Linked DNA regions of Homo sapiens. The protein of the gene in region 2 purifies or fractionates together with the protein of the main gene of each other region. This does not show direct contact. Each region holds a gene or a part of one and is shown on either strand. Other genes may lie near its edges. The genes, in order: RABGAP1L, C19orf38 and CAMK1.

Evidence for each region.
Region 1: the proteins of C19orf38 (region 2) and RABGAP1L purify together in Homo sapiens (affinity purification with mass spectrometry, with the first as the bait; one large-scale study listed by BioGRID). This does not show direct contact.
Region 3: the proteins of C19orf38 (region 2) and CAMK1 purify together in Homo sapiens (affinity purification with mass spectrometry; one large-scale study listed by BioGRID and IntAct). This does not show direct contact.

The regions. Positions count from the first base shown.
Region 1 is NC_000001.11:174,274,395-174,278,047, reverse strand, and holds part of RABGAP1L (rab GTPase-activating protein 1-like), read right to left. Parts: intron 2,949-3,653; exon of another isoform or gene 2,859-2,948; intron 2,216-2,858; coding exon 2,113-2,215; intron 1-2,112. UniProt on the Homo sapiens protein: GTP-hydrolysis activating protein (GAP) for small GTPase RAB22A, converting active RAB22A-GTP to the inactive form RAB22A-GDP. Plays a role in endocytosis and intracellular protein transport.
Region 2 is NC_000019.10:10,854,834-10,858,486, reverse strand, and holds part of C19orf38 (protein HIDE1 precursor), read right to left. Parts: intron 2,223-3,653; coding exon 2,130-2,222; intron 172-2,129; coding exon 144-171; intron 1-143.
Region 3 is NC_000003.12:9,763,362-9,767,014, reverse strand, and holds part of CAMK1 (calcium/calmodulin-dependent protein kinase type 1), read left to right. Parts: intron 1-364; exon of another isoform or gene 365-879; coding exon of another isoform or gene 880-1,124; coding exon 1,125-1,256; intron 1,257-3,653. Other genes in the region: OGG1 (N-glycosylase/DNA lyase), read right to left, coding at 880-1,206. UniProt on the Homo sapiens protein: Calcium/calmodulin-dependent protein kinase that operates in the calcium-triggered CaMKK-CaMK1 signaling cascade and, upon calcium influx, regulates transcription activators activity, cell cycle, hormone production, cell differentiation, actin filament organization and neurite outgrowth.

The DNA.
Region 1 (3,653 bases), on a different chromosome or scaffold from region 2:
TTTTTAAAATTTATTTTCTTTACAATTTTTAGTTCTCTGTTAAAGGAAAGTCCAAATAACCAAGGCCACCACTAGAAGAAACCCTCAATAGTGTTTTTAAATATTATATAACATTCAGATTCATCAACTACTTCTCAAATTCAATAACAATTTTATTACATTCTTACTAAATACAGTCTTACTAAATACACCTGCCAATTCAAGAGAAACTAAAATTTGTTAGACATTATACTTGACCTGGAGGACCTTAGAGAAAGGAGTAAGGAGTAATAACACAAGACAGAATATAACATTCAACTGGATCTTAGTGCAGTGGAAAGATCCAAGACTTTTCATCTCTCAGGTTCTAAACTTCTTCCATAAAAATCAAACTTTATTTGATCACACATTCTCTGAGTAATGTGTAATTTCAAGGACATAATTTAGAAATTTTAAAAATCAGGGCAACATTTTTGTGTGGCATATGAGATAATGTTAAATTTAAAATGTATACTTTGAATCAGAATATTATAATATACTATTATATAGTTTAATAGAATAAATTATAAATAAATTTTCTTTTGTGGACCAAATATATATTTTATTGCAAAATAAAACTAAACTAGGTGTTACATTAAAAACATAAAAACTATTTTTATAACTTGATATGCAAAATTCTTATATTTTGTTCTTCAAAACTGTCAACTGGCTTATTTTTATCATTTTTGTGGCTTCCTTCTGAACAAGTATAAGAAAGAAGTTACAGGTATTTGCAAGCCTGTCTCCAGAAATAACAAATTGTGGGTCTAAAAATTATTTACTGCTAATAAATGAAAAGTTAAATTTTATATAATCTTTTTTTCTGTTTAGCCTTTATTTTTAGACAGCTTAATATGTGATCAATGTATGTGATTTATATAAATGGTGAATACTCTCTTTAAGGAAATGAAAGAATAATTATCATTTTAATGCCCTTCATTAACATATTATATTTTCATATCAGTATTCACGAATGCTTCCTGTCAGTAACCAAAAGTCTACTGTGGGTATAAACTAAATAATATAAAAATTAATGATAAAACAAACTGATCCATTATATTCTAAATATGAATTAATGGTTTAATGACAGTAAAGCACTTAGGGTAGGCATATAACTCGGCAGGTAAAACTTTAAATTTAGTTTAAAAGTAGATAATGAAGGGGCAAAAAACAGGCAATTAACAGCTATCTGGATGAAGTAGGAATGAAAAAACACAATGGAACAACGAAAAATGTGACTATTCAACATTTATACATTCTGTTCAATACTAGACATGATAAATAATATGAAAAGTTAAAAAACTAAGAAAAAACTATTTGCTACAACTGAAATATTTAATATATATTACAAGCATCCCGAAGGCCAAAAGACTGGAGCCAATAATTAATAAATGAAAAACTATAAGTAAACTATAATGCAAAAATAGTTAATAATTTAAAAATATTCAAAATTCTAAAATATTTCCTTTTCATCATTTTCTTTAATATTTCTCCATCACTAGTCTCCACAAATGAAATAACTCTATAGTGGTATATGAAAAACAAAGCCCAAATGCTTTCTCTATAATCTAATAAAATTAATTCAGGCCAGGTGCAGTGGCTCACATCTGTAATCCCAGTGCTTTGGAAGGCAAGAAGATCAGTTGAGGTCAAAGGTTCAAGACAAGCCTGGGCAACAAAGCATGACCCCATCGCTACAAAAATAAAATTTAAAAATTAGCCATGCATGGCAGCACACACCTGTAGTTCTATTTAATAGCTACTCAGGAGGCTGAGGTGGGAGGATTGCTTGAGCATGACAGTTTGAGGTTACAGTGAGCTATAATGCCCCTATACTCTACCCTGGGCAACAGAGTGAGACCCTGTCTCTTAAAATAATAACAATAATAATAATTCACATATCTTTTGGGGAGGATTTTTTTAAATAGTGGAGATTTCCCCCATAGAAGCATAAAGAATAAAAATGAACCTCAAATTCTCAATGAAAGAATAAGTCCACTTTGAGTTCCAAATTTTTTTTAAAACATGACAAGCAACATTGTTCATAATATAAAATGTAAAGCAAACAATAAGGGATCTTTTAAGAAAAGTCACCTTTTGGGGTTTCCTCGTTAAGTGCCAGAAATACTGGTGCATTGGGGTTCCACATGCCAGTGATGACATAAGCTCTCCCATCATAGCTCTTTCCCATGGATTCCTATAAAAATTCAAACAGTAATTACTGATAAAAGACATCAAAAAAATCACTACTTTAAATTACATCTTACTTTAAGCAATACAAATTATTAAAATTTAGATTAACAGTCAAGCAGGAGCTTTATATTCACTGTAAATTCTTTTCATCCTACAAAAGCATTTATTTAAATATTAAATTCTTCTACAGCTTTCTTCAAGCACAGTTTCTATTTAAAGACATGTACCCTTGGATAAAAGGAGGCATATACTTACATGCTGAATCAAAAAAACATAATATTGTTACAAAGTTGTATTTAACTTGATCTTGACACCAATTGTCCAAATCTCATATACACATAAGAATGTATATGGTTTCTATTAAAACAATAATATAGAATTAGCTGAAGACAGTTAAACTGAACTAGTAGCTAATCACAGTAGGGAAAGTTAATATTTTTCTTCTAATATTCTAATTTTTAATGAATTCTTAAAATATTAATTTAGTTTGTAGCAATTAATACCTTTAAAATTAACACTTGTCTATTTTCTATATGTCAGATATTTATATACTTTCTTACAATCATAAATTAGTATTAGGAGACTAATTTTTGGTTTGTAAGCAGCATCCAAGTGTATTAACTCTCTCCCTCTACTGTTACACTTACTCCCTCTTTCTTCCCTTCTCTCCTTCCTCCTCTTCTCCATTCTTTAAGACTTTACCAAGCCAGCTCTTGACTCTCACTAAAAAAGCCAGCAACTCCTATGGCGAAAGCTAGGCTACTTATAGCTTGTGTATATGTGTGTGGAGAGAGGAGGGGTAGAGTTTGTCCCATGAAAGAACAACACACAGCATACAAGTATTTCCATATGCAAATGAACAGTATCTACAATATTTCAGTTTTTGTAGCGATTTCCTCACATTATGAATAGAGACTGTTAAAAGGGTCAGACTAAAACAAAGAGAAAAACTTTTCTTTTTTCATTATTACCCATTCACAGATGTTTCTCTGAACCCCCTATAAAATTGTGTCAGTCATTTGGTAATTACTATGTATATTTTTCTAGTGTATTAGTAATACTTCACTAATCAGATTGTGTAGCTTGAGCGCAGGGACCATGCATTCCAGAGATGAAATACACTCAAGGTCACTTGTAAACGAAACCCTCTCAGCAGCCCCAACACACTCATATGATAATGGTCTCTTTCTCTCCTCTACACACACACACACACACACACACACACACACAGAGTCACCTGTTGCTTAATGATAGGGTTATGTTCTAAGTTATGTGTCATTAAGTGATTTCTTTATGCAAATAGAATACACCGTACTTATAAAAACCTAGATGGTATAGGGGCTACACAACTAGGCTGTTGCTCCAAGGCTACAAACTTGTACAGCACGTTACTGTACCAAATACTATAGCAACTATAACAATACCATTTGTGTACCTAAACA
Region 2 (3,653 bases):
ACTTAATAAATGGCTCCTGTTCCTATTACGCAGCATGCCCACCAGGAGGCGCTGTTTGTGGGGGGCATGGAGTGCCCACCCTGCCAGGGAAGTGTCCTTCTTTCCCCAAACCACCCTCTGTGGGTCTCCAGGGATGATCTCACCTTTTCTTCTGTAAATTTCTGAGTTTAACTGGAACAAAAAAGAAATGAGCATGTGTTAGATTTTGGTCCTAATTGTATCCGGCAATTTCTGTTTTTTTTTTTTTTTTTTTTTTTTTTAGACAGAGTCTCATTCTTTCACCCAGGCTGGAGTGCAGTGGCTCAATCTTGGCTCACTGCAACCTCTGCCTCCTGGATTTAAGCAATTCTCCTGCCTCAGCCTCTCGAGTAGCTGGGATTACAAGTGTGCATCACCAGGCCAGGCTATTTTTGTATTTTAGTAGAGAAGAGGGTTCGTCATGTTGGCCAGACTGGTCTCGAACTCCTGACCTCAAGTGATCCACTTGCCTCGGCCTTTCAAAGTGCTGGGATTACAGGCAAGCCACCCCACCCAGCCTGGAAGGCCTCAGATTTTTCTTTCTTTCTTTCTTTCTTTCTTTCTTTCTTTCTTTTTTTGTTGTTTTTTGAGACAGAGTCTCGTTCTGTCGCCCAGGCTGGAGTGCAGTGGTATGATCTTGACTCACTGCAACCTCTGCCTCCCAGGTTCAAGCGATTCTTCTGCCTCACCCTCCCATGTAGCTGGGACTACAGGTGCACACCACCACGCCCGGCTAATTTTTGTGTTTTCATTAGAGATGGGGTTTCACCATATTGCCCAGGCTGGTCTCAAACTCCTGACCTCGCGATCTGCCCACCTCGGCCTCCCAAAGTGCTGGGCCATCCTGGACAACATGGTGAAACCCTGTCTCCACTAAAAATACAAAAGTTAGCTGGGTGTGGTGGCACGCACCTGTAGTCCCAGCTACTCGGGAGGCTGAGGCAGGAGAATCACTTTAACCTGGGAGGCGGAGGTTGCACTGAGTCGAGATTGTGCCACTGCACTCCAGGCTGGCAACAGAGCAAGTGAGTCGAGATCGCCTCACTGCACTCCAGCCTGGGTGACAGGGCAAGACTCCATCTTAAAAAAAAAAAAAAAAAAATATATATATATATATATATATATATATGTATGTGTGTGTGTGTGTATGTATATATATACACACATATATATATACATACACACACATATATACCCACACACATACACACACACACAAACACACATAATTTGGCTGGGCATGGTGGCACATGCCTGTAATTCCAGCATTTTGGGAGGCTGAGGCAGGAAGATCACTTGAACCCAGGAGTTCAAGACCAGCCTGGGCAATATAGCAAGACCCTATCTCAACAAAAAATATTTTTTAAAAATTAGCCAGGTGTGGTAGTGTGTGCCTGTGGTCCCAGGACTTTTGGGAGGCTGAGGTGGGAGGATTGCTTGAGCCCAGGAGTTACCCAGCCTGGGCAACACAGCAAGACCCTGTCCTAAAAAAAATAAATAAATAATTAGCTGCATGTGGTGGCACGCACCTGTGGTCCCAGCTACTTGGGAGGCTGAGGCAGGAGAACTGCTTGAGCCCAGGAGGTCAAGGATGCAGCGAGCTATGATCCTGCCATTGCACTCCAGCCTGGGTGACAGACTGAGTCTCCAAATAAAAAATTTTTAGGCCGGGGACTGTGGCTCATGCCTATAATCCCAGCACTTTGGGAGGCCGAGGTGGGCGGATCACCTGAGGTCAGGAGTTCCAGACCAGCTTGGGCAACATGGCAAAACCACATCTCTTCTAAAAATACAAATATTGGCGAGGCATGGTGGTGCACGCCTGTAATCCCAGCTACTTGAGAGGCTGAGGCAGGAGAATTGCTTGAACCTCGAAGGCGGAGGTTGCAGTGGGCCGAGATCGTGCCACTGCACTCCAGCCTGGGCGACAGAGCGAGCCTCTGTCTGAAAAGAAAAATAATAAATAAATAAATAAATACTTTTAAAAGGGGTGTGATGAACAAATTACTGAACCTGAAAACAAAATGGTGTGAGTTGTGAGTGTAAGCACATCTTCACGTTCCAGAAGTTGTCAACTGGCAACTTGTGTGCCAGGCTTTGCGTGCTGTTACCTTTTCTGACCACCAGGGCAACAGCCACCAGCCCAGCAAGGAGGAAGAGGGCACCAGCCAGGCTCAGGGAGAGCACCAAGATCCAAGTGGGCACTGGAGGAAAATCAGAAAAGAGAGTGGGCAGGTCAGTGTCGTCTCTCCAGGTTACCTTTGAGTAGCCAGCCCTTACCCCATAACCCCCAACCAAAGAACATGAATGCAGCTGGACCCAAGAGACTTAGCAAACTTTGTGTCTGGCCAATTAGCCTATCCCCCGCTCCTGGCTATTGTGATTGGTTCAGGATGAGCATGTAACCCAAGTGGAGCCAATGAGAGCTAACTCTGGGACTTTGGTGGTACCACTGGGAAAAGAGGTTTACTCCTCTGGCTAGCATTGCATAGGATAGATATCTTAGGCCAGGTGCGGTGATTCATGCCTGTAATCCCAACACTTTGGGAGGCTGAGGCAGGTGGATTACTTGAGGCCAGGGGCTCAAGACCAGCCTAGCCAACACAGGGAAATTCTGTCTATATTAAAAATATAAATAATTGGCCAGGCGCAGTGGCTCACGCCTGTAATCCCCACACTTTGGGAGGCCAAGGCAGGTGGATCACTAGGTCAGTAGATCGAGACCATCCTGGCTAACACTGTGAAACCCCGTCTCTACTAAAAATACAAAAAATTAGCCAGGCGTGCTGGCACGTGCCTGTAGTCCCACTTACTCAGGAGGCTGAGGCAGGAGAATCACTTGAACCCGGGAGGCGGAGGTTGCAGTGAGCTGAGATGGCGCCACTGAACTCCAGCCTGGGTGACAGAGCAAGACTCTGTCTCAAAAAGAAACAAACAAAACAAAAAACAACAAAACCCCACAAATAATTAGCCAGGTGTGGTGCACACCTGTAATTCCAGCTACTTCAGAGGCTGAGGCACAAGAATAGTTTGAACCCGGGAAGTGGAGGGTGCACTGAGCTGAGATCGTGCTACTGCACTCCAGCCTGGGTGACACAGAGAGACCCCATCTGAAGAAACAAACAAAAAAAGAGATGGCTGGGCACGGTGGCTCACGCCTGTAATCCCAGCCCTTTGGGAGACTGAGGTGGGTGGATCACCTGAGGTCAGGAGTTCGAGATCAACCTGGCCAACATAGTGAAACCTCGTCTCTACTAAAAATACAAAAATTAGCCAGGTGTTACGTGCCTGTAATCCCAGCTACTTGGGACGCTGAGGCAGGAGAATCGATTGAACCCAAAAGGTGGAGGTTGCAGTGAGCCGAGATTGGGCCATTGCCTTCCAGTCTGGGTGACACAGCTAGAATCTGTCTCAAAAAAAAAAAAAAAAAAAAAAAAAGAATATATATCTGAAGCTTCAGGGCACAATCTTGCCTCCATGAGGGGGAGAAACTACCTGAGAATAAGACAGAAGAGGAGCTGAGAAGGCAAATGCTTTCTGTCATTTTTCAGCACCTGGATCCAGCCATATCTGAAGTCAGCCATGTAAACTGACTTCAGCTCAGTGAACCAACAAATCCCCTCTTGCTGGTAGAG
Region 3 (3,653 bases), on a different chromosome or scaffold from region 2:
TAAAATCACAGGCTGGGGGGAGAGTGGAAAAAGGGGCTGGAGATGAAAGTGGGACAGTTTGTGTAGGGTTTTGGAAGCCAGGCCAGGGAGGCTGGATATTGTCCCATAGGCCACCGGGAGACACTTAAGACTTTTTGGCAGGTGTGCAATTCAGGATAGTCACTCTGGCCACAGCTTGGAGGGTAAATTGGAGAGGGACAAGACTGGAAACCAGTGATGAGGTTACTACAGTAACTAATTATCCCTGAGGATTGAAATTTCACCACGAGAGATGCTTTTCTTTGACTTATGACTTCTTATTCTCCCAGAGAAAGCAAACAGATGTGGAAAGAATACCCTAGCAAATCCTCTTTAATCAGTTAACTTTAGTTAAATGAGTTTATTTGTTCCTTTTTAAGAACCTGTTCTAAAACACTGCTTCTTAAAGTTCAATGAGCATACAAATCACCTGAGGATTTTGTTAAACTGCAGATTGATTTAGTAAATCTGGGGCAGGGCCTAAAGTTTTGCATTTCTTTTTTTTTTCTTTTTTTTGACCCAGGATCCAAAGCAGTAGAGATTTTGCATTTCTAAAAAAGTTCCCGGGTGATGCTGATGGTTCTTTAAGGTTCTAAAGGGTGTTAAATTAGCCATGACTCGAATTAGCAGAAAAAGGGATGAACCAACTGTACACATAATCCAAAAGCCCAGGGGTAGACCTCAGGCATGGCTGGATCCAGAGGGCCACATAATGTTATCAGGAAATATATTTGGCCATTTCTCAGGTTGGACTTCCTTTGTGTTAATTTCATTCCCAAGCAGGCTCTCCCCAGGTGGTGGCAAAGATGATCGCCATTAGCTCCAGGCTTACATCCTACCAGCTCAACAGGAGACTCATTCTCAAAGTGCTAGTAAGCTGGCTTGCATCACATGACCAATTACTGTGGCCAGGGGAGAGACTACTTTGACTGGCCAGGCCTGGGTCATGTGACCATCTCTGGAGCCAGGGGATGGATGAGTGACTAGGGGAGGGTCATCCACGTCCTTGGTCCAGCAGTGGTCACAGAACCCATAGGGAATGGAGGAGAGGCTGGAGGGAAGCTGGGGTTCCAGTTCTTCACCTTGTGAATCCCCTCTCCCGATAGGGGGGCCTTCTCGGAGGTGATCCTGGCAGAAGATAAGAGGACGCAGAAGCTGGTGGCCATCAAATGCATTGCCAAGGAGGCCCTGGAGGGCAAGGAAGGCAGCATGGAGAATGAGATTGCTGTCCTGCACAAGTGCGTGGGCCACAGCCTTTCCCTGCCCCAAGCTGACCCTGCCTTGGCCCTCCCATCCTCCTCCTTTCCTGCTTTGGACAAATCATTTAAACTCTCTAAGCCTTAAATTGCCCCTTTATAAAATGGGGATCACAATTTCCACTTGGCAGGGTTGTGGGGAACATCAGAAGTCCTTTATTTCAAGTGCCTGGCCTAACATGACAGATGTGATGGAGGTGCCAGTGCTTAGTCACAGGGGTTTAACTGTTCAATCAGGTGTAAAGATCCATCCTGAACATGGCTTGGACCCACATATCTCAGTTGGTGTTGTCTCTGGACCTACCTCAAGTTCCCCTCACATATTAAAACCACTCAGCAAGTTTAAAAATGACTGTCTGCTGACCCCCAGACTAAATCCACAACCAACTGGTCTATGAATTGCTCATGCTGATATGAAACCTCCTGTCCTCACTGGAAAACTTACAGAGAATCACTTCCAATCTCTCCCCTGAGCTTCCAACCACCCTGGGCAGATAATTTTTTTTTTTTTTTTGAGATGGAGTCTCACTCTGTTGCCCCGGCTGGAGTGCAGTGACGCAATCTTGGCTCACTGCAACCTCTGCCTCTTGGGTTCAAGCAATTCTCTTGCTTCAGCCTCCCTAGTAGCTGGGATTACAGGCACCTGCCACCACGCCCGGCTAATTTTTGTATTTTTAGTAGAGATGGGGTTTCGCCATGTTGGCCAGGCTGGTCTCGAACTCCTGACCTCAGGTGATCCACCCGCCTCGGCCTCCCAAAGTGCTAGGCATGAGCCACCACACCCAACTCCTGGCAGAGCATTTCTAATAAGACCCAGAGAGGACAGGGATTTGTATACAGTCACATGGCAAGTTTGTGGCAGAGCTGAGCCTTCCTCATCATCAAGATCAATTATCGCCTGACCAACACGGAGAAACCCTGTCTCTACTAAAAATACAAAATTAGCCAGGCGTGGTGGCACATGCCTGTAATCCCAGCTACTTGGGAGGCTGAGGCAGGAGAATTGCTTAAACCCGAGAGGTGGAGGTTGCGGTGAGCCGAGATCACACCGTGCATTACACTCCAGCCTAGGCAACAAGAGCAAAACTCCATCTCAAAAAAAAAAAAAAAAACAAAAAAAAAACAAAAACGCCAGGCGCAGTGGCTCACGCCTGTAATCCCAGCACTTTGAGAGGCTGAAGTGGGCAGATCACCTGAGGTGGGGAGTTCCAAACCAGCCTGACCAACATGGAGAAACTCCGTCTCTACTAAAAATACAAAATTAGCTGGACATGGTGGCGCATGCCTGTAATCCCAGCTACTTGAGAGGCTGAGAAAGAAGAATCACTTGAACCCAGGAGGCAGAAATTGTGATGAGCCAAGATCATGCCATTGCACTCCAGCCTGGGCAACACTCCAGCCTGAGCAACAAGAGTAAAACTCCGTCTCAAAAAAAGAAAAAAAAAATCAATTACCATTATTGTTTCACTTATGAGTATTTACCGTGTGCCAGGCACTGTGCCAAGCACCTTACCTGCATTATCTCACATGATCCTCACTCCAACTCTTTGAGGGAAGTACTACCATTGGCTTCATTTTATAGATGAAGAAACTGAGGTTCAGAGAGGTTACATTAAATCTAGCACCTACCCTGTACCAGGTGCTGGAGGAACAGTGGCAAGCAAGACAAAGCCTCTGGATTCGGGGAGCTTATGTCTGGTGGGGGAGGCTGACAAACATGTAAACACAGAAAACTATATATATATATTTTTTTTGAGATGGAGTTTTGCTCTTGTTGCCCAGGCTGGAGTGTAATGGCATGATCTCGACTCACTGCAACCTCCGTTTCCCAGGTTTAAGCAATTCTCCTGCCTCAGCCTCACAGATAGCTGGGATTACAGGCATGTGCCACCATGCCTGGCTAATTTTTGTATTTTTAGTAGAGATGGGTTTTCGCCATGTTGGCCAGGCTGGTCTCGAACTCCTGACCTCAAGTGATCCGCCTGCCTTGGCCTCCCAAAGTGCTGGGATTACAGGTGTGAGTCTCTGTGCCTAGCCAGAAAACTCTTAAGAGGTATGTATCAGGCTGGGTGCAGTGGCTCACTGGTGAAAAGATCTGCACCCAAATAGCATGTGACGGGCAGGATTTGGACCCAGGTCTGTGTATGCCAGAGCCCAGTGTTTATCCCTCTGCTCTCTCACCTTCCAAAAAATGGTAATAAACCATGGTAAGCTAGCTTTTCCCTTTGGGGACGAGATCCTTGGTTTGTCCTACCCAGGTATGTAGGCAGTGGTCGGGGGTTGGGGGTGGCTGAGCTGTCCTGAGCTCTAAACCGCTGTTTTTTTTTTTTTTTTTTTGAGACAGGGTCTTACTCTGTTGCCCAGGCTGGAGTGCAGTGG